Linked DNA regions of Homo sapiens. The protein of the gene in region 1 interacts with the protein of each later gene in a pairwise test. Each region holds a gene or a part of one and is shown in the gene's direction. Other genes may lie near its edges.

The links.
Region 2: the proteins of ACY3 (region 1) and AAMDC interact in binary tests that used the Homo sapiens proteins (3 or more experiments, as listed by UniProt).
Region 3: the proteins of ACY3 (region 1) and PMM2 interact in binary tests that used the Homo sapiens proteins (3 or more experiments, as listed by UniProt).

The regions. Positions count from the first base shown.
Region 1 is NC_000011.10:67,640,349-67,647,730, reverse strand, and holds the end of ACY3 (N-acyl-aromatic-L-amino acid amidohydrolase (carboxylate-forming)), read left to right. Parts: intron 1-107; exon of another isoform or gene 108-141; 5' UTR 142-215; intron 216-667; 5' UTR 668-687; coding exon 688-923; intron 924-1,269; coding exon of another isoform or gene 1,270-1,290; intron 1,291-1,843; coding exon 1,844-2,039; intron 2,040-2,350; coding exon 2,351-2,444; intron 2,445-2,578; coding exon 2,579-2,686; intron 2,687-2,861; coding exon 2,862-2,971; intron 2,972-4,791; coding exon 4,792-5,007; 3' UTR 5,008-5,176; downstream 5,177-7,382. Other genes in the region: T-box transcription factor TBX10, read left to right, coding at 5,977-6,326, 6,970-7,129. UniProt on the Homo sapiens protein: Plays an important role in deacetylating mercapturic acids in kidney proximal tubules. Also acts on N-acetyl-aromatic amino acids.
Region 2 is NC_000011.10:77,864,251-77,874,762, forward strand, and holds the end of AAMDC (mth938 domain-containing protein), read left to right. Parts: intron 1-5,471; coding exon 5,472-5,567; intron 5,568-7,901; coding exon of another isoform or gene 7,902-7,924; coding exon 7,925-8,065; 3' UTR 8,066-8,102; downstream 8,103-10,512. UniProt on the Homo sapiens protein: May play a role in preadipocyte differentiation and adipogenesis.
Region 3 is NC_000016.10:8,839,873-8,850,662, forward strand, and holds the end of PMM2 (phosphomannomutase 2), read left to right. Parts: intron 1-7,851; coding exon 7,852-7,953; 3' UTR 7,954-9,453; downstream 9,454-10,790. UniProt on the Homo sapiens protein: Involved in the synthesis of the GDP-mannose and dolichol-phosphate-mannose required for a number of critical mannosyl transfer reactions.

The DNA.
Region 1 (7,382 bases):
TAGCAGCGTGGGGCGGGCGGGGCAGGAGCAGTGGAGCAGACCCCAGCACTCCGACCTTTGGCTGCATGAACCTCAGCCCGTCCCACCCACCCCCTGCTGTCTGCCAGCTTGCCACAAAACTTCCCATCTGTGGATCTCCAGGCCCATGAATACCAGCCTGTCTGCGAGTTAGACGCCAGTCCTGGTGGCCCGGGAAGCCCAGATCCGCATCAGCGGTAAGTACCCCCTGACCTGAGACCCCTGCACCAGCTGGGAGGAGCAAGCAGGAGGGGCAGGAAGGCGAGGCTGTTGCCTAGAACCCAGACACTCCACAGCTAACTCTGGTGACACTTTCCACTCCCCACGCTGTGCCTCAGTTTCCCTGTCTATAAAAAGGAGCGCAGTCCTCTTCCTATAGGGAGTGTGCCTTGGTGAACCCATCTTCCTGAACAGTTGGGCCCCTCTTCTCAATTTAGGAAAAAGAAACTTCTTTTCTCCAAAGGAGCAGGAAAATTGTCTCCTCAGAGAAAGGGCCACTGGGGGTGCAGGTGGGACACAGCTGAGACACTCCCAGCTGTCCACACCTCTTGACAGGTGGCTGCCCTGTGGAGCCTCCCACCGCCATCCTTGCCCTGAGCCCAGATCCCTTGCATCGGGGCCAGGGTCTCCTAAGTATGCCCACCCCCAGGTTCTGCACCCCACACCAGCATGTGCTCACTGCCTGTGCCCCGGGAGCCCCTGCGTCGCGTGGCTGTGACTGGGGGCACGCATGGCAACGAGATGTCGGGCGTCTACCTGGCCCGGCACTGGCTGCATGCCCCCGCAGAGCTGCAGAGAGCCAGCTTCTCCGCTGTGCCTGTGCTGGCCAACCCGGCAGCCACATCCGGCTGCCGCCGCTACGTGGACCATGACCTCAACCGCACCTTCACCAGCAGCTTCCTCAAGTGAGTGCTTTTGCCGCCAGGTTGGCCCAGGCAGTTGGGCACCGAGTCCCCACCACAAAACTTCCCTCCCGCCACCAGCAGGGCCCTCCCTGCCTTCACTCCTGCTTCCCCTCTGCCTATGTGGCCCATTCCTCCACGGGACAAACCGAACATTTAGAGAAACCAAGATTGATGTCACCTCCTCCAGGAAGGCCTTCCTGACTGCAAGTTGGTTCAGGACCTCTTCTGGGGATCCCAGACCTAATTCTTCCCTCAGATTAGCCCCACAGGCCATGTTTACTTGTCGTGTGCCCTGATCACTGTTCATGCCTCCTTCCAATGAATAGTCACTGCATCCTATCTCCAGGCCAGGCTCTGGCCAGCTCAGGTGAGAGAATGGGGAATAGGACCAAGGTGTTGGCTTCAAGCTTAATGGGGAGACAGAGGAAGAACCGGGCAACCATAACCCAGGGGGCTAAAGGCAGGGCCGGAGGCTACACAAAGCAGCTAACCTGGCTGAGAGCAGTCAGGGAAGGCTTCCTGGAGGCAATGGTGTCTCAGCCAAGCCCCAAAGGCTGACTAAAAGCTAGCCAGGGGAAGAGAGGTGAGAGGGAGTTTCCACTGGAGGGCCAAGCACAGCACAGGCCTGGGGGTGAGACCAGCATGGTGCTCAGGCAGTGTGGCTGGAATGAGGGCATGAGAGGCAGGCAAGTGGGCAGGCAGGTGGGAGGGCGGGCCAGGCTGAGAGCTTGGATTTTACCGGGAAGTGCAGAGCCAAGAGGGCCACGGGCAGGGGTGGACACAGCCACAACGTCTGAAGGGAAAGCCCTCGCTCGAGCTGCTCAGAGTGGCTCCTGCAGGGCCCCTGCCCCTTTCCCCTTAAACCACTGAAGACTGACTGAGACTGTGAAGATCGGTGTCCCCCATTCCCGTCTCCACAGTTCCAGGCCCACCCCGGACGACCCATATGAGGTGACAAGAGCCCGAGAGCTGAACCAGCTGCTGGGGCCCAAGGCCTCGGGCCAGGCCTTTGACTTTGTCCTTGACCTGCACAACACCACGGCCAACATGGGCACCTGCTTAATCGCGAAGTCCTCCCACGAAGTCTTTGCCATGCACCTGTGCCGCCATCTGCAGGTGGCCCCGGCCCCAAGCACACAGCTCCCCAGAGGGGAGTGGGAGGGAGGGAGGGCAGGCGGGACAATGCTGGAACCTCCTTTGCTTAGCCCCTCTTCCCCGGGCCTAGTTTCCCCTGGGCTCCAGTCCCTGGGGTCTGCCACTCGCCAGCACTCCAGGCCCCCGGTACCCCCTCCCCTACCCTGCCAGAGGGTAGAGGGAGACCTGGCCAAGGAGGGTGGTGCCCTGTGTTTCCTCCATGCAACACCTTCCCACCTCAGTTTCCCTTCCCAAGTAGGCCTGGGCCCCTAACCTGCCTCTCTCGCCCCCAGCTGCAGTACCCCGAGCTGTCCTGCCAGGTCTTCCTGTACCAGCGGTCTGGGGAGGAGAGCTACAACCTGGACTCTGTGGCCAAAAATGGACTGGGTGGGCCGCAGCCTTCTGAGAAGTGGGCGGGGCCAGGAGGGCTGGAGGGGCGGGTCCAGTCACCAAGGGGCAGGGCCTCTTCAAGGAGTATATGGGTCCTGCACCTGCCTAACCCCTTGCTTCCTGGTCCCCAGGTCTGGAGCTGGGCCCCCAGCCACAGGGTGTGCTGCGGGCTGACATTTTCTCAAGGATGAGGACCCTGGTGGCCACAGTTCTGGACTTCATCGAACTCTTCAACCAGGGTGAGACCCCAGGGGACTTTCGGGAAACAGGTCCGGGGAAGAGCAGGTCTGGCTCAGGGGTTGGGGAGCCAGGCTCACAGGCAGGCTGGGATCTAGCCCTGACGTACCCCCACGGCCCAGTCTGTCCCCTAGCCTGGAGGGAGGGATGGGCTCACACACCCAGCCTCCCACACAGGTACGGCCTTTCCTGCCTTTGAGATGGAAGCCTATAGACCCGTGGGCGTCGTGGACTTCCCCCGCACCGAGGCCGGGCACCTGGCAGGCACTGTGCATCCTCAGCTGCAGGTGTGTGTGTGTGTGTGTGTGTGTGTGGTGGGGGGTGATTTCTGGGGCCACAGCCTTGGGGAGGAGGATTGTCAAGGAAAACTGAGCCCCAGGGGGTGCAGCCAAGCCTCCCACGAGCTCACCAGCATCTCGGGTTGAGGAGCAGGATGGGAGGCTGGGCTCCGCCATCCCACTTCCCCTGGCCCTGCTGCCTTCCCTGGAACCCCACACTCAGGCCTAGCACAAGAGGCCACAGTGATCCCCATAGCTCCTGTGGAGGGCATGATGGAGACAACCCTACCCTGGCTGTAAAAGGCAGAGGGAGGGGACATGGAGCAGGCATGACTCAATTCACCTGCTTGGAGGTGCAAATACAAAACTCTCTTCTGATTTTCAATTGGTTCCTCGAGCATCCCCATGCATGTTGGCAGTATGTCTCTCTGCAGGCCTTCCCTTCCTGAATGTTCCAGGATTAGGCAATCCTGCTTCCACACCTTTCCCTTGGGTGCCTGAGAAGAACGTACTGGCTGCTGCTCTGCTTGCTGCCACAGGGGGTCATTGTTGAATAGGGTCTGGTGCAATCTTGTGGCCTTTTGTGCCCTGAAGTTTCATTTTGAGGAGTTACCTTCTTACAAATGGAGGCAGCACCATCCCGTCCATGTTTAGGGCTAGACAGTCTTAATCCAGCCGTGCCCAGCTACCTTGCAGACGTTCAGTCATAACAGTCAATTTGGGTGGCTCCTCCTACAATTTTAAAATTTATTTTATTTTTTATTATTATTTTTTGAGACAGAATCTTGCTTCATTGCCCAGGCTAGAGTGCAGTGGTGCGATCTCAACTCACTGTGACATCTGCCTCCTGGGTTCAAGCGATTCTCCTGACTCAGCCTCCCCAGTAGCTGGGATTATAGGCACTCACCACCACACCCAGCCAATTTTTGTCTTTTTAGTACAGACAGGGTTTCACCACGTTGGCCAGGCTGGTCTCGAACTCCTGACCTCAAGTGATCTGCCCACCTCAGCCTCCCAAAGTGCTGAGATTACAGGCCACTGAGATTATGAGCCACTGTGCCCAGGCTTAAAATTTATTTATTTATTTATTTGAGACAGAGTCTCGCTCTGTTGCCCAGGCTGGAGTGCAGTGGCATAATATTGGCTTACTGCAACCTCCGCCTCCTGAGTTCAAGCGATTCTCCTGCCTCAGCCTCCCGAATAGCTGGGATTACAGGCGCTCACCACCACACCTGGCTAATTTTTGTATTTTTAGTAGAGATGAAATTTCACCATGTTGGCCAGGCTGGTCTTGAACTCCTGACCTCATGATCCACCCGCCTTGGCCTCCCAAAGTGCTGGGATTACAGGCGTGAGCCACTGCGCCCAGCCAAAATTTATTTAATAAAGAATCATATTGTACTTACCGTGTGCCAGACACTGCTGTAAGCACTATTAACCTGTTTAGTCTAAACTTCAGAATGATAGGAGGAGATATTGTAATCCTTATTTTACAGACAAGAAAGCTGAGAAACAGAGGTTAAGTGACTTGCTCACAGTTACACAGCTAGCAAGAATTTGAACTCCAGCTTCAATACCTGTGCCCGTATCCATGAGGGTCCACTTCCACATGGGCACATGCCACCCCAAGGTGACCTGTGTCTTCATTTCTAGACACAGAGCAGACTGGTATCTCACCAGACCTGCTGTCATATGGATTAAGGAAGTGAAGCATGGGTGGGAAAAGCCATGAATGAGGGGCATCTTTTGGGTGTCAAGCTGGGGTCACCCCCCTCTGGGGCCAGGGCAGAGGTGGCCCCAGCAATCTTGGCCTTTGGCTCTCCTCCCAGGACCGAGACTTCCAGCCACTGCAGCCTGGTGCTCCCATCTTCCAGATGTTCAGTGGGGAGGACCTGCTCTATGAGGGAGAGTCCACGGTGTACCCCGTGTTCATTAACGAGGCTGCCTACTATGAGAAGGGCGTTGCCTTTGTCCAGACTGAGAAGTTCACATTCACCGTGCCTGCCATGCCCGCGCTGACCCCTGCCCCGAGCCCAGCTTCCTAACCCAAGACACACCTCCCCAACCTCAGTCTTCCCATCTGAACGATGGGTCCTGAGGCACAGCTCTGAGCACAGAGGTCCCTTCTGCCACCTACCATGCACCATGTTCCTTGCCAGGCCTCCCCAACCCCTGGCCTCAATTTCCCTTTCTATAAAATGGAAGATGTCCAGAGGTCCATGGTTTGTGTCCTCTGTCCTGCACGGCTCCTCTCTGGCTGGGGAAGTGGATGGAGGAAGGGAGGTTGACCACAGGATCTGGGGGAGGTCTGGCCAGTGCAGCCTTGGACCTGCAAGTGTCTTGGGGCCAGTGGTGGCTGCCTCTGTGCCCACAGCTGTCCATCCATGCCTGGGGGAGGATTCCAGAGTGTGGGAGGAGAACCTGAAGAAGGATTGCTCTGGATCCAGCGGAGGGGCTTCCAGAGGAGGCTACAACCCAGAGGGGGACCCCCCAACCCTCCTATAGTCCTGGGGCCAGACAGTGAGTGTGGGGAGCGCAGAGACAGGCCCATGTCTGTGCACACATGTGTGTTTGTCCGTGCATGGCGCCTGCCCTGGATGCTCTTTGGCGTGCGTGTCTGTGCGTTTCCCACACACACGTGTTTCCAAGAGCCTCAGTTCCTTGGGCGTTCTAAGGGGATCTCTATGTGGCCAGATGTGCATTTTTAAGTGTGTAATGAGCCCGGTGCCCATAGTGGCTCAAGCAGGGAGTCAGGGCTGGGGGAAGGGCCACAGCAGGACAAGGCTGTCCCCATGCAGGACAGCCTGTCCAACTGCAGAGATGCAGGGAGGAGGTGGCTTGGGTTGGGGCACAGGGACTTCCCAGCTCTAATTGGGAAGCCACCATTTCCGCCATCCCCAGGACACCGCGCACTGATGTCAGGCGAGCCGGCATGAGGCCCACTGCTGAGGGCCCCTCTGTCCTGATGCTGGCACCCTTCAGGGTGTCATGGCAGGACAAATAGGCAGGGCTATATGCGACCTGGCTGCAGCCTCACTGCCCGCACCTGCCTGAGCCTAATGGACTCTTGTTGGACATCTGGGGCTGCTGGAGTCCAGAGTCCCCTCGCAGTGCCACTCCCCCAGCCCTCTACACCCCCACCCTGCCCATCCATTTCCCTGCGGCCACGGCTGCCACGCCACCTCCTGGTATTGAGCAGTGATATGAGAAGGTGTGAAGGATACGGGGGCACCAGGGACAGGCTGGCAGGCAAGATGGATGAGGGGGCAGGGGGCCAGCAGGCGCCTCGGGCAGGCAGGGCGGGCGGGCCAGCCGGGGAGGGGTGTGCAGGGAGGCCTGCCTGTGTCTGTGCGCGTGCTGTGTGGTAAGTCCATGTGCACAGAAGCTGTACGTGTGTGCGCCATGTGGCGAGTCAGCAGGCTCTGAGTTCATCCGTGTGTCTGCGTGCATGTGGGTTAGCATGTCAGTGTGCTCGTGTGTGTGTGTGGGAGGGGGGTTGTTTCCCATCACACAGATCAAAATCGCACACACACACGTATCAGGGGCCACTACAATCCCAGCCTGGCCCTCCCCTGGGTGTCTCGGTGAAGGGGAGCCACCAGTACTGGAATGGATCCCCCAACTCCCTCCATCATCTCCCCACTTCCCACCCACCATGCCATGGCCAGGGCAGATGACTACACCTTGTTGTATAGCCTCAAGGGGCTGCTGGGACCCTCCAACTCACACAGAGCACTCCCATCTTGCCTGGCAGCAACTCCAAAGTGCTGGCAGCCTTTTCTCACACAGCCGGGCATGGGGTTGGGCCAGGGGCCGGCCCTCCTCCTTTTACATCCCCCAGAGCCAGCCCACCGTCTTTGTGTGGGGTCCCATCCAGCTCTGCAGGCTGAGATGTGAGACACAAGGGATTGAGCCACAGGCATCCCTGAGCTGCAGCTGCGCCCAGAACATAGCGCTCAGGGAGAAGCAGCCCTGCCGCCCCCCAGCCCCTCCATGCCCCCTCTTAGGAATCAAGGCCACTGCCAACCCAGCATCCCCAAGACAGGATTCTGGAGGAGGTATGGGGGGCTCCAGCCAGACGACCCACTCTGTGCCATTCAGCAAGAGTCAAAAGGCCAGCGAGCACTCTCAACCAAGGAACTGGCAGCCTCTCAGGGGGACCTCCAGGTTCTGCCTCCCTGCAGAGTGATCCATGTGTCCCCTGAATGCCCAGCACAGGCTGTAGACAACCTGGAGAGGGTGCCCGGTCAGGCCAGAGAGAACAGACAGACCCACAGGCAGAGCGGACGCCCACTTCTCACCTGGGCCAGCCTCACCGTTTCCACTCATGTCCAGATGGGGATTCCGTGGACACCATCAGCCAGGGCAGTGCCCCCAGTTCCAGGCGGGATGGGCTTACCGCTCTCCAGGCTGGGCTAGA
Region 2 (10,512 bases), about 10 Mb from region 1:
CATAATGATTATTCTTGGGCCCATCTCTACTAAAAATACAAAAATTAGCCAGGCATGGTGGCACATGCCTGTAATCCCAGCTATAGGCTGAGGCAGGGAGAATCGCTTGAACCCGGGAGTCGGAGGTTGCAGTGAGCCAAGATCAAGCCACTGCACTCCAGCCTGGGCAACAGAGTGAGATGCCATCTCAAAAAATAAAAAATAAAAAAAAGAACATAGTGGTTATTCTTGATTGAGAACCAGATTAATTAGTTGCCTTGCATTTAGGGTGTATATTATGTGAAAAAATGCATACTGTGGTTCTAAACACTAGAAATAAACTCAGTGAGTCAAAGGTTCATACTGGAAGCAGCAACTATGAAATTGACATAGAAGGAATAGTAGATACTTGTCTCCTATCTCATGTACAATCCAGGGCATATGTTCCTTGAATAGAATGACTGAATTGCCAGGCACAGTGGCTCACACCTGTAATCTCAACACGTTGGGAGACCAAGATGGGAGGATTGTTTGAGCCTAGGAGTTCAAGACAAGCCTGGGAAATATAGAGAGACCTCGTTGCTACAGAAAGTTAAAAAATTAGCCAGGCATGGTGGCACATCTGTATTCCCAGCTACTTGGGAGGCTGAGGTGGGAGGATCACTTGGGCCTGGGAGATTGAGGCTGCAGTGAGCCCTGATTGCACCACTGCCCTCCAGCCTCAGTGACAGAGTGAGACCCTGTCTCAAAAACAAAAAAGAATGACTGAATTACTCTATTTCCATAGTTCTTACTCTCTCCTTCTCTGGACCCATATAGTTGAATTCCCATAAGGTAAAGGCCCCTATAATATGTCTCCCTTGTATATATTTTGCAAATTAGACACAGTGTCTAATGTGGTTGAGTCCCCAACATTCATTCTACTGCACATGATTTGCCTAACTAGTCATGGTTTAGTTTAGTAATGGATTACTTAGCATGATTACTTAGTGTGAAGGCCAAGGTGTTGTAATAGAAATCTCAAAATTCAGTAGCATAAAGAAGATAGAAGTGTCTTTCTCTCATAAATTATTGTGGCCAGTCCAAACTGGTGGTAGGGTGGGAGAGATGTGGATAGCACAATTTCATTTAGGGGCCTAGGTTTTTTCTTTCTGTTGCTCTATCATCTCCTAGAACATTTGAATTGTAGGAACCGGTTGTAGGCATGGCAGGGCTCTAACTTGCAAGGAAGAGGAAAGAGAAGAAAAGCTCATGCCAAACCTATATATGAAATCATTTCTTCTGCTCATGTTCCATTGAATTTTATATTAGTGATAGCACAGTCACATGACCACATTTAACTGCAAGAAGTACAGAAAACGGAGTGTCTAGCTTATCAGCTATATGCCCCAGAAAATGGGCAGAATGGATTTTGAAAGAACAACTAGTCATCTGCCATTATGAGATGGGAGGGTAAGTTGGCTAGCAGACTTTTGGAAAAGATTTCCATTTTCCTAAACTAATAAAGAAGCACATATAATACTAGACCAAAAGTTTGTTGTTAATATTTTGATAATTCCACTTGTATGAAATGTTTCCTCTATAATCTTACATATCTTCTTTTGTGTATTCTAAAACATTATTCTGAGAAGGGGACCATCGGCCTCAATAGACTGCCAGAGGGGCCTGTAGCACAAAAACAGGCCTCTGCCCTGGCAGAGGCAGCAAGATTATTTAACAGCCTGTTAATTCAGACAAGCAATAATGAGAATGTGACTCAGGCAGTGTCCACAGGGGATAGATTCCAGAGATCCTTTAAACTTCACTCACAGAATCTGCTTTTATCAGCAATACAGCCAGATGATAGCATTGCTACTACCCATTTATGCTCACTTAATTTTGGCAGAAGGAAATACTTCTTTGGAAGAGTAGTTTAGGAATGTTTTCTTTTTAAAGTTAGCATGAAATAGGGAGAAATGTTCAAGACAGACAGGATGCCATCTTGTTGTTTAGCTGGCATAATGGATATTAGCTGGACATTTTTCCACAATTAATAGCTTCCCCCGCAGAAAAAACAATAAGCTTTTACCACCTTAGATCGTGTGACAGAAAGCCTCTTAAAGTAGAGGAACAGAATCAGACACTCAATAGGAAGAAGAGCCTTAGTGATTTGCCCTGAGGGATTGGAAGCAGCACAGGAATTGCTAGTGGCAGGTTGAGGATGCCTCAATAATAGTCTCAAGCTCCAATCCCATGGATCCACAGGCCCTTGCAGAGTTATCTTTCATTGCTTTGTACATGACACTGTGAGCCTGCAGTAAAGCAGCAGCAGCCCAGTTCATCACTTGAGTTCCATTGATCCAGCCACTCCAATGGGCTGTGGCTGTCTCCAGTCTAATCTCCAGAGGATTATGGGTTTGTAGTCTCCTATGACCTTACACTTGGATTTCCAGCAGTCAGTGGCCTCTTGTTTCATTTTACTAGAATGTGAGCTCTGGGTGAGAGAGTGAGACTCCATCTCGAAAAAAAAAATATTAAAAAAAATAAAACTGCACATGTAAATATGTAAGACATTATTATTACAGGATTTAATGAAAACTCATATTCATCCTCCCCATACGTTTCTTTTTTTTCTTTTTCCTTTTTTTTGAGACAGAGTTTCGCTCTTGTTGCCCAGGCTGGAGTGTAGTGGCACAATCTCAGCTCACTGCAACCTCCACTTCCTGGGTTCAAGTGATTCTCCTGCCTCAGCCTCCTGAGTAGCTGGAATTACAGGCGCATGTCACCACACCCGGCTAATTTTTGTATTTTTAGTAGAGACAAAGTTTCACCACCTTAGCCAGGCTGGTCTTGAACTCCTGACCTCAGGTAATCCTCCCTCCTTGGCCTCCCAAAGTGCTGGGATTACAGGCATGAGCCACTGTGCCCGGCCCCCATGCCTTTCATAAATATATAAATTTCATTCCTATCTCCATAACGTCTCATCTTCCTGAACTGGAAAACGCTTCTTTCTCTCGCCCATTTGTTATCTCTTTGATAATTTCAACAGCTCTTTTCCTATACCATCTCTACCATTAGAAGGTACCCCTTCTACAACCACTGCATTCAAGGCCTATTCATTTTCATACTTCGAGACCCAGTTAAAACAGCATGTCTTCCATGACAGTTTCCCACTTGGGTTTATTCACTCTGTCTTCTGAGATCCTCAACTCCATTTCTTCTCATCCTACTACAAATATTTGCACATTTTCACTAACCTTACCTGAATGAAACTCCATGGAACATTTGGTTCATCTCAGTATTGCTACTGCTTAGAAATACTGAGACTTGGCACAGAGTTAAGTTCTCAGTAAATGCTGGATGAATGAATGAAAGGATAGAGGTATATGGGTCAGGAAAGGAATGCTTTGTCTTTGGGAGCTTCAGTGCTAAAAGCATTGTCCTTGTGCAGAAACATAACAGGTGGAGCCCAGTAGGTTGGGCTGGTAGTTCCCAAACTCTAACTCCCATATCCCCTTTGCTGACACAGAGGTAGTTCAAGAAGCTACCATCCTTTAATGCTCAATTCATCTTTGTTAAACACATCACCTTAAATGTGCCTAGAAGACTGGGAAGACTTTTCAGAGTGATTGGTAGGTTTTAAAGCATAAAAAGAAGTTTCCTGGAGTTAGCTGGGAAGATTAGGAAGTTCAGAAAAAAAGTAACAATATAGAGATTGTTATGAAATTTTTCTAAAGTCAAAATTTTAGCATGCTATGCAAGTGCTTTCTTTTCCCACCTCATCTGTCACTCTACAAACAAGTTGTACTGACTTTAACTGTTCTTCTAGTCTTTTTCTTTCCTCTGAGCCTTTTTTTTTTTTTTTGAGACAGAGTCTCGTTCTATCGCCCAGGCTGGAGTGCAGTGGCACAATCTTGGCTCACTGCAAGCTCTGCCTCCCAGGTTCACGCCATTCTCCTGCCTCAGCCTCCCGAGTAGCTGGGATTACAGGCACCCGCTACCTGGCCCGGCTAATTTTTTGTATGTTTAGTGGAGACGGGGTTTCACCGTGTTAGCCAGGATGTTCTTGATCTCCTGACCTCGTGATCCACCCGCCTCAGCCTCCCAAAGTGCTGGGATTACAGGTGTGAGCCACCACGCCCAGCCGCCTTTTTTTTTTTTTTTTTTGAGATGAAGTCTTGGTCTTGTTGCCCAGGCTGGAGTGCAATGGCGTGATCTCAGCTCACTGCAACCTCTGCCTCCCAGGTTCAAGTGATTCTCCTGCCTCAGCCTCCCGAATAGCTGGGACTACAGGCACGCGCCACCACACCCAGCTAATTTTTGTATTTTTAGTTGAGATGGGGTTTCGCCATGTTGACCAGGCTGGTATCAAACTCCTGACCTCAGCCTCCCAAAGTGCTGGGATTACAGGTGTGAGCCACCATACCTGGCCACCTTTTTTTTTTTAATGTACAGTCCAGAGGTTTTTGTTGTTGTTGTTGTTGTTGTTGTTTTTTAACACAAATTATGGCGTGAATTCACAGGGAATAGGCTCCAGCAACTCAGGCTCCTTCCCACTGGTTCTTACACAGTGTGCTTCTCTGGGTGTAGCAGGCTGGCGCTTAATTTGAACCCGGGTACCTTTCTCTCTGGCTTCCTTCTTTTACTAAACATTTTCCTTCACACATTTCAGGAAGCTCTATTGGCTCTTAGTGTGCTTAATGTGCTCAATAGGCACAATTCTCTTGGCAAGAATCTGGCCTGTAACTTATTTGTTTACAACAATGCCAACAGCACGTTGGGTAATACCGTAGACTCTTCCAGTTTTGCCATGGTAACATTTGTGGGACATTCCTTTTTGAACAGTACCCATTCCCTTGATGTCTACAGTATCACCTGTCTCATAGATTCACATGTACCATGTGGCCAAAGGAACAACTCCATATTTTCTAAAAGGCCTAGAGGACATATATTGGGTGCATCTCCTCTTTCCCTTTGTATTTGTCATTTTGGCAAATTACTGGAAGATGGTTGTTCCAGCCAAAAGGTCCTGAGCCTTTTAAAATGCTTTTTCCTGTACTTGGAATGCCTTGTTTCCCGGATTTCGTTTATTTATCTCTTTTTCTTTTTTTTTTTTTTTTTTTAGATAGGGTCTCACTGTGTTGCCCAGGATGGAGTGCAGTGGTGCAGTCATGGCTCACTGCAGCCTCGACCTCCCAGGCCCAAGCAATCCTCCCAACTCAGCTCTCCTGAGTAGCTGGGACTACAAGCATAAGCCACCACACCCAGCTAAGTTTTTATTTTTTGTAGAGACACGGTCGGTCTCCCTATGTTGCCCAGGCTGGTCTTGAACTCCTAGGTTCAAGGGATCCTGCCTCGTCAGCCTTCCTAAGTGCCTTAAAGAGCCTATGAGTGATGCTTGGCACAAAGTGAACCTCAGTAGACATTTCTTGAATGAATGAATCCCACAAGAATGCCTATTGCAATGAAAGATTGAGAGCAGGTACCTGTCTACTTTCTCTTTCCACATCCAGCATTCTCCTGGTGTGCAGCCTGCAGATGTGAAGGAAGTTGTTGAGAAGGGTGTACAGACTCTTGTGATTGGCCGAGGGATGAGTGAGGCCTTGAAGGTAGGTGTTGGTATGCACAGCATTCCTGAGGACAGGTGGGGATCTCTTGGGCCTTTGTCTTACAGACTTGTCCTTCTTGGGAGGTCATCTTTATATATCATGTACCCTCATTTTGCTGACCCAGGATAGCAGTGGCTGCACACATTCCTCTGCCTCATCAGCGTTGGGCTCTCCAGTCTACCTAACCCTGAGACAGTGTCATTTCAACTATTTCTCAGAATCCCTCAAGTTCTACAAGGATCACTATTTGGTCCTTTATATTTTAATAATACTTTATATCCTCATAGTATATTTTATAGTACTTCTAATTTTTCTTTTATTGGACACATTTATAGTTTTCCCCTCTTCAGAAAAAAATTTAATTTAATTTTTTTTTTTTTTAAATATAGATGGGGTCTCACTATTGTTGCCCAGGCTGGTCTTGAGCTCCTGAGCTCAAATGATCTCCCGCCTCGGCCTCCCAAAATGCTAGGATTACAAATGTGAGCTACCACGTCTGGCCTATTTTTTAATTTTTTTTTTTTTTTTTTTTTTTTTTGAGACGGAGTCTTGTTCTGTCGCCCAGGCTGAGTGCAGTGGCGCCATCTTGGCTCACTGTAACCTCTGCCTCCCGGGTTCATGCCATTCTCCTGTCTCAGCCTCCCGAGTAGCTGGGACTACAGGCGCCCACCACCACGCCTGGCTAATTTTTTTGTATTTTTAGTAGAGACGGGGTTTCACCGTGTTAGCCAGGATGGTCTTGATCTCCTGACCTCGTGATCCACCTGCCTCAGCCTCCCAAAGTGTTGGGATTACGGGTGTGAGCCACCATGCCTGGCTTATTTTTTAATTTTCTTACAGAAATAATATATGCTCATTGTAAAAGATTTAAAAATTCAATGCAGAAATGTAGAAGTAAAAAGGTGGGAGATTCCCTTCCCAATCTTCACATTTGATGTATATTTCTCCAGTCTTCTCTGAATGCATCTGCAAATATATACACACTTACACATATAGATATACGTTTATATACTTATAACCATTTTACATAAATAGGTCAGTGCTATATGTATTCTATAACTTTTTCCCCCACTTACATTACTGTATTATGGATAGTCATCCATATAGAGGCCTACCTCATTCTTTCCTTTATAGATGTCTTACAGTCCTGTTCCTTACTGATGAAGGTGCCCCTTACATCTAGGGCTTTATATATATAGGGCACCTTCATCAGTAGGGCTCAAGCAATCCTCCCATTTTGGCCTCCTGAAGTGCTGGGATTAAAGGCTTGAGCCACCATGCCCAGCCTATTTATATTTTAAAATTTTAAACTAGTTTGTTTTCCCCATTACAATAATTCCTATCTGATAGGGTACTTTTATAAATCTCAAATATATAGAAAATATAGGGCATATTAAAAAATATTTCACTTGAGTTCTTTCTGAGGCAGAGTCTAATTAAAATCTATTTTTAAAAAATATTCAGGACAAGCCAGAGTTGAGAAAATATCTAATAATAGCTGTCACTATTAAGAACATCTTTTATATAAATTCATTTACAGATATTTATTAAGCATTTTCTATGGGTAAGGCACTATTCTAGAAACTGGTGACGGTGCGATAAACAAGACAAACAAGGTTCATGCCCCTCATGGATAATAAAAAACTAGACAACTTCAGATAATAATAAACGCAGTGAGGAAAATGGTGACTTATGCTGGGCTAGTAGGGGGTGGGCAAGAAAGGCCTTTGTGAGAAGACATTTGAGCTGCAGTGTACATACATGAGTCAATTTCATCCTCACACCAACCCTGTGATGTAAGTACTATTATACCTATTTTACAAGGGAAGAAATTGGGGCTGGGAGACTTTAAAGAGCTAGCCTAACATTTCTTAGCTAGCATGCGGCAAAGAAGAAATTTAGACTCAGTTTAGACTAACTCAAACATTTAACATTTATGGAGTTTGCACACCAAGGTAGATGTTTCACATACCCTTAGCTCAGTTAGTTGTCATACCAACCCTAGGTGTTAATGTCCCTAATTTACAGACATGAAAACAAAGACTCAGAGAATTTAATTTACTTACCCAAGGTTACAGTGCTAGTAAGGATGTAAATCCAAGGCTAACTGCAAATCCCATGTTCTTTCATTTCCATTTCACTTGAGCTTTATGCATGGGTATTATGATACCTCTGACAAAGAGGCCTTTTTGACTCATTGGGGCTCACTGCCAAATTTTGGACTGGTGATACACTGAGTGATCGTGAAGTGACGATTGTCACTGTCTAATTCTGTAGAGTACACCTGCCTCATGGCAGTAAAGGAACCCCTGGGGGGCCTTTCCCCCTACTTACTCATCTCTTTTCCACCTTCCCAGGTGCCTTCATCAACTGTGGAGTACCTCAAGAAACATGGCATTGATGTGCGGGTCCTCCAGACAGAGCAGGCAGTGAAGGAGTATAATGCCTTGGTTGCCCAAGGGGTCAGGGTGGGAGGTGTCTTCCATTCCACCTGCTGATGGAGCCTTAAGAGGAGAATAAATCACTAAGTGCCTATGCCTGTGACTGTCACTCACCATTCTCCAAACCAGCCTCCCCTAAACATTTTTGGACACCTACTCATGCCAGGTCCTGTGCTAGGCTCTTGGGATGCAGGGATGACCAAGACAAGGTCCCTGTCCTTGAGGGTGCTAAAAGAAAAAAAGATGAGACAGAAGTTTAATAATATAGTGAATGAACTGAGGGAACATCTGAGTAACAGGAACAGTAGGAGTATGCCCTGGGAGTTGGGTTCTAGACAGGCTGTTCTACTAACCAACCCTGAGACTGGAGCCAGATTGTTCTCTCTGGGCTTCAAATTTCAACTATAGGCCAGGCGCCATGGCTCACGCCTGTAATCCCAACACTTTGGGAGGCCGAGGTGGGCAGATCACTTGAGGTCAGGAGTTCAACCCCAGCCTAGCCAACATGGTGAAACCCCATCTCTATTAAAACTACAAAAATTAGCTGGGCATGGTGGCACGAGCCTGTAATCCCAGCTACTTGGGAGGCTAAGGCAGCAGGAGGATCACTTGAACCCAAGAGGTAGAGGTTGCGGTGAGCCGAAATGGTGCCACTGCACTCCAGCCTGGGTGACAGTGAGAGACTCCGTTTCAAAAAAGAAAAAATTCAAGTATAAAATGTTGGGGCTGGCTAGATGCCCTTTAAAGGTTCCTACTGGCTCAGATAGTCTTTGTTCTATTAAATACCGAGGTGGCCTTTGTGAAGCCTTAGAATAGACTGAGAGAACTACAAGCTATCAGCATCACCTTATTTTTAATTTTTCTTTCTTTTTAAAGAACTATGGGCTTTGGTGTCAAATAGCCTTGACTTTGAACTGCAGCTCACTGCCACTCACTGGTTGGGTATTTGTCTAATTTCTTAGTTTCACTGTTCTCATCTGTCAGATCAGGATAACATTAGCAGTACCTGGAGTCATTGTAGGTATTAAATGAGGCAATTCATAGAAAGTATTAACTCACTGCATGGCATTTAGTAAGGACTCAATACATTAAACCACTGTTGTCCTTATCTTTCTATTAATGGGGATACTGTGTAAAGCCAACTAGTTTCATTTTATGGTTCTTAATATAGCAGCTTATTATTTCAAAGAGCCATAGAATGTTGGAGCCCAAAGGAACTATCTCACTCATTTATTCAGTAATTCTCTTTCATATCCATTTACGGACAGCCTATTACTAATTTTCTTATGACCAGTTATTGTTGGGCCCTGGGGGAATAAGGATGAATGTTACAATTCCTGCCTTTGGGAATTATGTTGTATGAGAGAAAGACAAATAAGTAAACAATAATGATACAATGTTAATATTATAATAGTTACTAGGTCCAGTGGTGGCACAAAGAAAAGACTAATTTATCCCACTAGGATGGAAGGAAAATTAAGGAAGACATCACTAAGGAGATGACATTTAAGCTGAGTCTTAAAAAATGGAAGGTTCATTAATTCACTGAAAAAACACTTACTTGGCAGCTCTTTTAACTAGACATTTACTAGGTATGGTATTTATCACAGCCATAACTAAATAAAATCGCTCCACCCCAGCCATCACTGGAGCAGCAGCAGTGGAAAGATGATTTTTGCTTCACATGATCCTGCCACCTGACTACGTAGTTAGTTAGGCTTCTGACCTACAGGGACCAATCTATAGACTGGACAGCAACTTAAGATGTGGCTTGGCAAGAAAAGCTGAAACAGTATGGAAAGTGAAGGGATTTATTTTTTTCCAAGTTCTCCAAGTAAGTGGCAGACGTAGGATTAGAACCCAGCACTGTGTCTTTATCAGTTTATGGCATACACCTCCTTGCTCCCTAGAAGCAGACGGGAGTGAGTGCTTCACAGACCCGACACCCAGCATTGAAGTCTCGGAAGGATCTGCTTGGTGCCCTTTCCGCAGCCCTTTCATTTGTCAGATGACAGATCTTTCTAGATCTGTTCCCTTGGCTCATAAAGCCAGCCCTCTGTATAGCTAAGAAGGATGTTTGATAAAATTCAGACTGTTTCTCTAGTGATGCAGTCTTTTTTTTTTTTTTTTGGTCAAATGTAAGGTGAGACAGCTCTGGTGGGTGTTGAATTCAGTGTGGGTGTAATCATTCTTCCTAAGTGAGTTGTCTCCAATTAAAGAGAACTTAGTGTAAACTTCTTAGAGACAGAAGTATCTGTCAGTGACATTATTAAACTTTTAAGAAAACCTGCTAATACATAGCCCCTACTTTGGAACCTGGTGCACATGGTTAACGATGGAAATATGTAGAGCTTGAAGGGAAGCTGTTTCTCCACATAACTATACTTAGTCCTCTGTCTTAAATCATTAAAGCCTCTGAGTTAGTTTGTAGGTAGAACAGCCCTCAAGCTGCCCACAGGTCATTTCTTCTAGCCTGAGTGGTTAAGACAAGAAGTTGGCCGGGT
Region 3 (10,790 bases), on another chromosome or scaffold:
AGAAAGGAGAAAGGAGAAAGGTTTTTTAAATAAGTGTGAAGGAGGGCGGCAGCTTGCTGATGTGAAATGTCTGGGGAAGTCTTGCTGGACCTGTCTAGAAAGTAAATGAGTTCTTCAGGAGGGTAAAGGTGAGGGCTGTTACAGGAAGTTCGGAGGTGTAGGGAGATGGGAGATGTTGCCCAGTCTGTCTGTAAGGTGGGGACAGCTGTGTAGGCACTGGAAGAAAGGGAAATGCAAAGCCAGCAGTTGTTCACTAAGGAGGGATTAGAAGCGGCTAGGAGAGAATGGGTAAGGTTGATAGTGTGGTGGAGATAGCTGGGGAGAGGTAGAGGGTGGCATAAGAATGGGAATGAGAATAAGAGTGAGTATAAAAGTAAAGAATAGAACTTCATCAGGGTGGAAATATTGGAGGGTGCCTTGCCAGCAAAGATCATCTATCCACTCTAAGAGGGAGTTAAGAGTGGCAGTTTGGGGATAGCACCAAGAGATATCAGCTGTGATGGCTTGAAGAAACAGTGTAAACCGGCCGTGTAAACAAGAGTAGGGCATTTATAAGTAGTTGAGAATGGAGAATAGGAGTATGACCAGACAGAAGATAGTAGGGATGACTAGTTTTTTGGGGCTCGGCCTAAGTGGTGGGGGTGACTTCGTAAAGCCCTGTTGCAAAAAGTAGGGTAAGGACGAAAAACCTAATAGAATGAAGGGATGTATTAGGCTCATAAGGGTTATGACTGTTCTTCGAAATACGACTGAGTTTAAGGGAAGTAGGGGAGAGTACTTGCAACTTCCAGGAGGAAGAGGAGGGATTAGGCTGGCTGTCCGATGGACACAGCTTTATTCTGGAACGGTGAGCCTAGTGGGGAGGATCCTGCAGGCGGACAGCAGTCGGGGTACTATAGATGACTAAGTAGGGTCCGGTCCATCGAGGTTGTAGAGTTTGAGGAGTCAGATTAACAAGAACTGATCGTCCAGCTAGGGTGTCTTCATATGGCTGGGGATCTGGAGTAGGCAAGAGAAGCTTAGCAGCCTGGCGAATTTCCTGTCTAGCCTGCTGGAGGACTGGAAGACAGTCGCCTAGAGGGCTGGTGTCTGGGATGAGGTTGGGGCCAAGCAAGAAAGTGCGTCCATATAAAAGTTCAAATGGACTGTACCTACCCTGTAGCATCTCGAGAACAGGCTCTAATTCTGAGAAGAGCAAGAAGTAAAAGTACTGTCCAATCCTTTTTAAGTTGGAGGCTGAGCTTGGTGATGTGTACCTTTAAAAGACCATTAGTCCGTTCTACCTTTCCTGAAGATTGAGGACTGTAAGGGATATGAAGGTTCCACTGAATACTAAGAGCCTGAGAAACTGCTTGGGTGATTTGACTAGTAAAGGCTGGTCCGTTATCAGACTGTATAGAGGTGGGAAGGCTAAACTGAGGAATTATGTCTGACAGAAGGGAAGAAATGACTGCGGTGGCCTTCTCAGACCCTGTAGGAAAGGCCTCTACTTATCTAGTGAAAGTGTCTACTTAGACTAAGAGGTATTTTAGTTATCTGACTCGGGGCATGTTGAGTGAAGCTAATTTGCCAGTCCTGGGTGGGGGCAAATCTTCAAGCTTGATGTGTAGGGAAGGGAAGGGGCCTGAATAATCCCTGAGGAGTAGTAGAATAGCAGATGGAACACTGAGAAGTTATTTCCTTGAGGATAGATTTCCACGATGGAAAGGAAATGAGAGGTTCTAAGAGGCGGGCTAGTGGCTTGTACTATAGCATAGCCTGCCTTTGCTGCTATGTGGCGATTAGGCCTGGTGGAACCGCCATCAATAAATCAAGCGTGATCAGGGTGAGGAACAGGAAAGAAGGAAATATGGGGAAATGGGGTGAATGTCAGGTGGATCAGAGAAACACAGTCATGGGGGTCAGGTGTGGTATCAGGAATAATGTGGGAGGCCAGATTGAGGTCCGGGCCAGGAACAATGGTAATTGTGGGACTTAACAAAGAGTGAGTACAGCTGAAGGAGCCGGGGAGCAGAAAGTATATGCATCAGGTATGAGGAAGAAAATGGATTTTGGAAGTTATGAGAAATGTAGAGAGTGAGTTGAGCATAGTTTGTGATTTTTACGGCCTCTAAAAGTATTAAAGCAGCGGCAGCCGCTGCACGCAGACATGAGGGCTAGGCTAAAACAGTAAGGTCAAGTTGTTTGGACAGAAAGGCTACAGGGTGTGGTCCTGGCTGTTGTGTAAGAATTCTGACCGCACTAACCATGCCTAGGAAGGAAGGGAGTTGTTGTTTTGGAAGGGATTGAGGTTTGGGAGATTAATCAGACAAGATCAACAGGCAGAGCACGTGTGTTTTTATGAGAATTATGCCGAGATAGGTAACAGATGAGGATGAAATTTGAGCTTTGGAGGGGGATACCTGATATCCTTTGGAGAGTAAATGCTGAAGGAGCAGAAGTGTGTCTTGTTGAGAAGATTCAAAGGAGGGGCTACAAAGAAGAAGGTCATCAATATATTAAATAAGGTGAGAAGCGGAGGGGTGGAAAGAAAGTAGATCATGAGAAAGAGCTTGGCTGAAGTAATGAGGGCTGTCCCTGAAACCTTGTGGCAGCACAGCCCAGGTAAGCTGCTGGGACTGATGGGTGTCAGGGTCAGTCCAGGTGAAAGCAAAGAGAGGCTGGGACAAGGGGTGCAGGGGAACGCTGAAAGAAGCATCTTTAAGATCAAGTGTGGAATAGTGAGTTGTGGAGGAAGGTATTGAGGATGAAAGAGTGTATGGGTTGGGCACCACAGGGTGGATAGGCAAAACAATTTGGTTGATAAGGCGCAGATCCTGAACTAATCTGTAAGACTTGTCCGGTTTCTGGACAGGTAAAATGGGGGGATTATAAGAAGAGTTTATAGGTTTTAGAAGCCTATGCTGTAGCAGGCCAGTGATAACAGGCTTTAATCCTTTTAAAGCGTGCTGTGGGATGGGATATTGGCGTTGAGCGGGGTAAGGGTGATTAGGTTTTAATGGGATGGTAATGGGCATGTGATCAGTTGTCAGGGAAGGAGTAGAAATGTCCCATATTTGTGGGTTAAGGTGGGGGGATATGAGAGGAAGACGCAAAGGAGGCTTTGGGTTGGGGAGAAGGGCGGCAATGAGATGCGGCTGTAGTCCAGGAATAGTCAGGGAAGCAGATAATTTGCTTAAAATATCTCGGCCTAATAAGGGAACTGGGCAGGTGGGGATAACTAAAAATGAGTGCTTCAAAGAGTAATGTCTAAGTTGGCACCAGAGTTGGGGAGTTTTAAGAGGTTTAGAAGCCTGGCCGTCCATACCCACAACAGTTATGGAGGCAAGGGAAACAGGCCCTTGAAAAGAAGGCAACATGGAGTGGGTAGTCCCCGTTTCGATTAAACAGTGGGTGGACTTACCCTCCACTGTGAGAGTTACCCAAAGCTTGGCGTCCGTGATGGTCTGGGGGCTTCCAAGGCGATTGGGCAGCGTCAATCTTCAGCCGCTAAGCCAAGGAGTCAGTCAGAGAGCCTTGGGCCAGAGTTCTAGGGGCTCTGGGAGTGGCTGCCAGGTGAGTTGAACAGTCCGATTTCCAGTGGGGTCCCGCACAGATGGGACACGGCTTAGGAGGAATCCTGGGCTGCAGGCATTCCTTGGCCCTGGTAGTCAGATTTCTGGCACGTGTAGCAAGCTCCTGGGGGAGGAGGTTCTGGAGGAACGCCTGGCCGCTGCGGTTCAGGCATTTGGAAGTTCTTGTGTGCTGGAGATGTGGCTGGGGTTTGTCTCACAGTGGAGGCAAGGAATTGCAACTTTTTTCTATTATTGTACACCTTGAAGGTGAGGTTAATTAAGTCCTGTTGTGGAGTTTGAGGGCCAGATTCTAATTTTTGGAGTTTTATTTAATGTCGGGAGCAGATTGGGTAATAAAATGTATATTGAGAATAAGACGGCCTTTTGACCTTTTAGGGTCTAGGGGCTGAGGAAGAATTGGAACCTAGCTCGGCCTGGCGAGGAGGGGAGAGGTCAGATGGGTCTGTAGAAAAGGAAGATTAGAAAGACTCAGCAACGCTTGGGGTTGGGACTGAGGGGACAGGCGGGAGGGAAAGAAGGAAGATTTGGGACGAGTTGCACTGGGCACAGAGACTAGGAAGGGACTGATGTGTAAAAGAATGCCTGGACATCAGGCACCTCAGACTGTTTGCCCATTTTACGACAAGAATTATTTAGATCTTGCAGGATGGAAAAATTGAAAGTGCCGTTTTCTGGCTATTTGGAACTACTGTCGAGTTTGTATTGGGGTCAAGCGGCATTGCAGAAGAAAATAAGGCATTTATTTAGGTTTTAGGTCAGGTATGAGTTGAAGAGGTTTTAAGTTCTTGAGAACACAGGCTAAGGGAGAAGAAGGAGGAATGTAGGAAGGTTGCCCATAGTGAAGGAGGCAAGCCCAGAGAAAAGAGAGCGTAGAGACATGGAGGGAAGGGGTTTGGGGGTTCTTACCCTCCAGAAAAGCGGGAAAGGGGTTGGGGCATGGAAATAAGGGATTGGGGCACAGAGATACGAGTTTGGGGTACTTGCCTCTCCCCCAGAAAAGCGGGACTTGCCGCTAAGGGTGAAGGAGAAGGGGTTGGGGGGTTCTTGCCCCTGCCCCAGAAAATCAGAGAAGGGGTAGAGACACGGAAAGAAGGGGTTGGGGTCCTTGCCCCTTCCTCAGAAAAGCGGGACTTGCCGCTAAGGGTTATGGACCAAGGCAGGTGTCCCTGCGTGGTCTGACACCTCTGAAACGTGGGTGAATGATCAGAGGCGTCCTTGCAATGATTAAACACCAAGGGAAGGCTGCCTTCCCAGTCCGTGACCGGCGCCGGTTTTTTGGGTCCACAGATAAAACGTCTCCTTTGTCTCTACCAGAAAATGAAAGGAATTGAAATTAAGAGAAGGGAGAGATTGAAGTGTGGCGCCTAGATTGAAAGGAGAAAGACGGTGAGGGATAGGGAGGTTGGAGAAGAGAGTAAAAAGAGGCTGCTTATTGGATTTGAAATTGGTGAGATGTTTCTTGGGCTGGTGGGTCTGAGGACCTGAGGTCGTAGGTGGATCTTTCTCATGGAGCAAAGAGCAGGAGGATAGGGGATTGATCTCCCAAGGGAGGTCTCCCGATCTGAGTCACGGCACCAAATTTCATGCGCGTCCATGTGAAGAGACCACCAAACAGGCTTTGTGTGAGCAACATGGCTGTTTATTTCACCTGGGTGCAGGCGGGCTGAGTCCGAAAAGAGAGTCGGCAAAGGGTGGTGGATTATCATTAGTTCTTATGGGTTTTGGGATAGGCGGTGAAGTTAAGAGCAATGTTTTGCGGGCAGGGGTGGATCTCACAAAGTACATCCTCAAGAGTGGGGAGAATTTCAAAGAACCTTCTTAAGGGTGGGGGAGATTACAAAGTACATTGATCAGTTCGGGTGGGGCAGAAACAAATCACAATGGTGGAATGTCATCAGTTAAGGCTATTTTTACTTCTTTTGTGGATCTTTAGTTACTTCAGGCCATCTGGATGTACACGTGTAAGTCATAGGGGATGCGATGGCTTGGCTTGGGCTCAGAGGCCTGACAGTAGGTGTTCTAGAAAGGTGTGTTGTGTTAATGTGTGAATACTGACTCCCCTCCTCAGTCACTGAGGCGGGGAGGGTGTTTGGCTCTTTTGAGGCATGTGAGAGTTGGTTGTGCCTTTGGTTTTTTGTTTGTTTTTTTTTCTTTTGAGTCTCGCTCTGTTGCCCAGGCTGAAGTACAGTGGTCTGTTCTTGGCTCACTGCAATCTCCGCCTCCCAGGTTCAAGTGATTCTCCTGCCAAGCAGCTGGGATTACAGGTGCGCACCACCACACCCAGCTAGGTTGTGCCTTTGTTAGGTTCTCTGTGACTTTTACCCACTGTGCCATTCCTGAAAGAAATCTTTTTTTTTTTTTTTTTAATTAGAAGAATTACTGGAACTAGCTTGGCACTGTTGGACACAGTCTTTGTCTCAGCTACTCGAGAGGCTGAGGCAGGAGGTTCGCTCGAGCCCAGCCTGGGCAACATAGCAAGACCCTATGTCCGAAGGAAAAAAAAGGCAAAATCAGAATTACCAGAACTGATTTCACATGTGTAGGTAGCAGATGGTGGCCATGCAATTCAGGTCTGTCTGAAGGCCCCCAGGCCTGGTACAAAACTGTGTAAGGCCAGTACAAGGCCCTGACAGGTTCCCAAGTGGCTGGACTGGAAGAGATGCCAAGTTCATGGCCTCCTAACCTGACTCCACCCAGCACTCCCTGGGCCCAGCGACGTTCCCTCCTGAAGCCTGAAATTCACCTCCACCTGAGGAGGCCATCTGCCTGGGGATAGGTTCTTGCAAAAATGAAAACACTCATTTCCAGAGGCAATTAATTCTTTTAAAGGATGTCAGATTTTTGGTACAAAATCATGGTTTCCACGTTGGCTTCATGCTCGGTGCTTTATGAGAAAAATCCCTTTTTTCTACGGTTGTGTTCATTGTATTGTAAAGCAATCGTAGATTATTTTAAGGTTTTGAGTTAGAGTGATTATCCAATTTTATGAGGGAAATAAAGGAATTCCATGAGAAAAACGGGGGCTTTCCTGCAGGGCTCGGGGTTGCGGGAGCGGCAGATAACCTGATTCATTAACGTGAGCCCAGTGGGATTGGTGGGGGTGATGGGGACACAGATGGGAGCACTCAACTCAGGCACAGGACCCCAGCAGAACATGCCCAGGTCCTCCTAGACATGGGCCCTTGCAGACTTTCTGAGGCCTCGGTTTCGTCATCTTACCAAGGTGTGACCCCAACCATCATCTCCTGAACTTCTGGCCACAGAGCTGTGAGCAAGCTTCCATCATGACCCCATTTTGGAGATGGGGAGTTGGCGCAGCCACACTGCTGCTCAGTGGTAGAACCAGCATCTGACCCAGGCCACCTGTTCCAGAGACCCTGCTTTTAGCCAGCAGCTCAGACCCCAGTCATGTGGGGCCATTTATTTATTTATTTAAGATAGAGTCTCCCTTTGTCGCCCAGGCTGGAGTGCAGTGGTGCGATCTCGGCTTACTGCAACTTCCACCTCCCGAGTTCAAGCAATTCTCCTGCCTCAGCCTCCCGAGCAGCTGGGATTTCAGACGTGCGCCACCATGCCCAGCTAATTTTTGTATTTTAAGTAGAAATGGAGTTTTGCTGTGTTAGCCAGGTTGGTCTCAAATTCCTGACCTCAAGTGATCCACCCTTCTCAGCCTCCCAAAGTGCTGGGATTACAGGCATGAGCCACCATGCCCGGCCCACGTGGGGCTGTTTAAATTAAAATCAAATTAACTGAGTTCCTCCATTGCATTGGCCACGTTTCAAGTGTGCAGAGTGACACATGGCCAGTGGCTGCCATCACCGCTGATGTCGCCACGTCCCTCATCACAGGAATATCCCTGGCAGCCCTGCTCCCGGCCCTCTGCCCTCCTGACGCTCCCTTGTGACTTGTTAGAAAAGCGTAGGTACAGCTAAAAAAAAAAAAAAAACTGATGGCTGTGAGAATACTGTCACTCGCTGATGCCTTCTGTGTAGAAAAATAAGCCTTAGACAGATCTTCGCAAGAACATCGTGATGGCTCTCATAGGCATAATTACGTGTTCCAAGCCAAATTGCAGTTCAAGAGAAGGTTATAAATCTCTTCTTAATAACAATTGTACTCACGTTCCTCTCCTGGAAACTAAGAGGAAGGTAGCTGAAGAAACTCTCCCTGCCCAGTTAAATCTTGTTTTTTGGGTACTTTTGGACTCCAGGGTCACATCAGCAATGGCCCGGGACAGACGAGGGGGAGCCTTCATCTGTACTTCGTGTCTTTCCAGGGTGGCAATGACCATGAGATCTTCACAGACCCCAGAACCATGGGCTACTCCGTGACAGCGCCTGAGGACACGCGCAGGATCTGTGAACTGCTGTTCTCCTAACGTGGGAGCGGGAGGGGCGGGGTCCCGGCTGACAAGCCAGCATAGGGCATTCGGTGGCCAGAGCCGAGGGTCCTCCCACACGTGCTCACCCACCCGCAGCCTAGGCAGGCTCTGCATGCTATGCCAGGCATGTGCAGTCTGGACTTCCACCTCCAGTGCCAGAAACTTCCAGAAGGAAGGAGAAAACTCTTGTCAAGAATGGCCCAGAGGAATGCCTCGCACAAAAGGTCTTCCCCACCCACCCCCAGCCCCCTAGTCTAATACCCACCCTGATACGTGCAATCATGTAGTTTTGGCGGAAATTTCCCCATCATTCTAGGATGATACAGAAAGAAAAACTGTGCCTGGACCCTCCCTCTTGGTGGGTCTGTGGAAACATAAGCGGTTTTTTTAATGGGCCCCTGCATCAATACCAAACATGGGGGTTTGGTAATGAGAAACCAGGACAGGCCATCTGCAGTGACCCAGCCCAGGACGAAGTTTACAAACACCTCCTGGAACGAAGCTCCCGCCTGCATGTCACCTTGATGGGGGCTGTGAGTGGGGCAGTGTGATACCCAGTGACTAGACGCACTCTGCGTTTTCCCGTGTTTGGGGCTGAGGCCTGCTGGACAGATGGCTGGCCAAGTGGGAGCAGACCCTAGGGAGTTTGCACCTCGGCTGGGCCGGATTCGGACCGGCTCTGTGTTCACTACACTCAGAATAGCCTGGCTGCTTCTCTGTCTCCGAGACCGGAGGTAGTGGGAACCAACAGCTGGGCTGGAGAGTTGGTGCTGGCAAAACAGTCCTTGCCCTGGGGCCGGTTCTTACCCAGGTCCAGAGAAACCAACGCGGGATGTCAGACTTCACCAAAAGGACTTTCTGGTTGCCCCTGGCTGGCTTCCTGGAGGCGTTCGCCTCTAGTTTCTCAGGGATGGAGCGAGAGCCCAGCCAGAGAACAGTAAGAGGAGCTGCTCTCCTATCTGCACTCACCCAGGCCTTCACCCAGACTTTACCACGGAGGCGGCTGAGTGCAGCTACAGCTAGGTCCGCGTCCCTCACTCTTTTCATCTTCTGCACGTTCTTCGTGAAACTGGAAGGATCCCGGGTCTCAGCTAGAACACGGTGGAAGAGAACTTTCCTAGGAAACGGTTCATGTGTCACTTTTCAGGATGTGGAAACACTGAGCCATACACCCTCCATTGCTTGGTGCTGGGGTTGTGTGGCCTCCACTGGGCACTTGCCGACCTGAGTCTGGGGCCAGGGGAGCCCAGGCTGCCCTGCACTCCTGCCTCCCAGCCCACAGCCAGGTGCTTTCATCACAGCTAAACCTGGTTCCCTCCAAACCTCCCAGCCACTCGGGCTTGTAACTGTCTGAGCCCCGGATCCGGTGGGGTGAAAGCAGCCAGCTCATCCCAGTGACTCACAGGACACAGCCATCCAGCGGCATCTTTCCTTGTCGAATGATACTGTAATGACCTTCCAAAGTGAAGAGTAGCACATTAAAGTGATTTTATTGTTTCCTGTTTCTCATTCCGATTTCTTTTTCCTCCTATGTTCCCAGATTCTGGAATGGAACCCCAGCCCTTCCAGGTCTGAGAGCCACTCTTTCTTTACTCTGGATTTCTGTCACATCGGGGGCCCCTCCCTCTGCGGAGTTGCATGTTGCTGTTCCTGATGCACAGACTCCTCCCCCGCTGCTTTTCTGCCCACTGGGTCAGGATCTGCCATTCTTTACAAGTTTCCTTAACGTATTGCGTCAAAGCGAGACAACCGAGTCTTACTCAAACTTGTTTTAACCGGAGATGGAGGGTTGCTGCTGTGTCACCGCCTGCACAGGGCTGCCCTCAGGTGAGTACCCCGAGTCTGCCAGGCTGGGTGCTGATGCGCGGAGGTTTGGGCCGTCCCTGCCCCAGTTCCCACAGTGGCTGCTTGAGACCCTCCCCAGGCCCCTCGAGCCCCTCCTGCACTGTCTGCTGCCTCCCTTCTGCAGTCAGAATTGACACTCCCCTTCCACCTTCTTTGTCATCACATTGCATCCCAGGCCAGCTTCCTGGGGCTTACTCCAAGGGCATCGGCTTGCCCCGCACTGTGGTGGGATGTAAAGTGATAACAGCTAAACGACGCATGCACAACATGTCCTGGTGCCTTCTGCGTGACCCCAGAGCAGCAGGTTCTGCACATGGCAGGTAAGAGCACAGCTGCCAAGACCCCAAGCCTAGTTCTGCTGCTACAAGCTGCTGCGTGACTTAAGGTGAGTTCATCTTCGCCTCAGTTTCCTCCTCTGTCAAATGGGATAGTCCTTACCGTGTATGGAATTTAAAGCACTTTGAACAGTGAGTGTGAGCCATTACTAACTCAAGTAATACCCCTTCCCAACCCAGAACCCTATAAGGCAGGGACAGTCAGTCCCTCTCTCTGCTTTAGGGGGTTGCAGGATAAAGACACCGTCACAAGAAATTTAAACACAGTAGGTAAATTTTGAGCCACAGCAAAGCACAGAGGTTGCATCCAGGCCAGCTTAGCACTGTTGAAAGTCACCATCCCCAGCACTGCAGAAGCTGACCCTGAACTCAAGGTCACCCAGGGCTTAAGCCTCAGAGAAAAGGCCTGGGTTGAACCTGAGCAGTGGGTGAGTGCAGGGCAGGCCTCTGGCTCCCTGGAGGGAGAGGCTAGCCAGGAAGTTGAGCTTGAACCTGATCCCGAGGGAGAGGTGTGGGGCATGCTCATGATCTGTCCGGGAAGGTCTCTCCAGCTACTGGAAGGGGAGTGCCCACAGGGGCCAGGAGAAGGCAGTTGGGCAGATGTTGCCGTAGTCCGGACACATCCAGGCATACGTGGTTTTGAATCACTTCCTC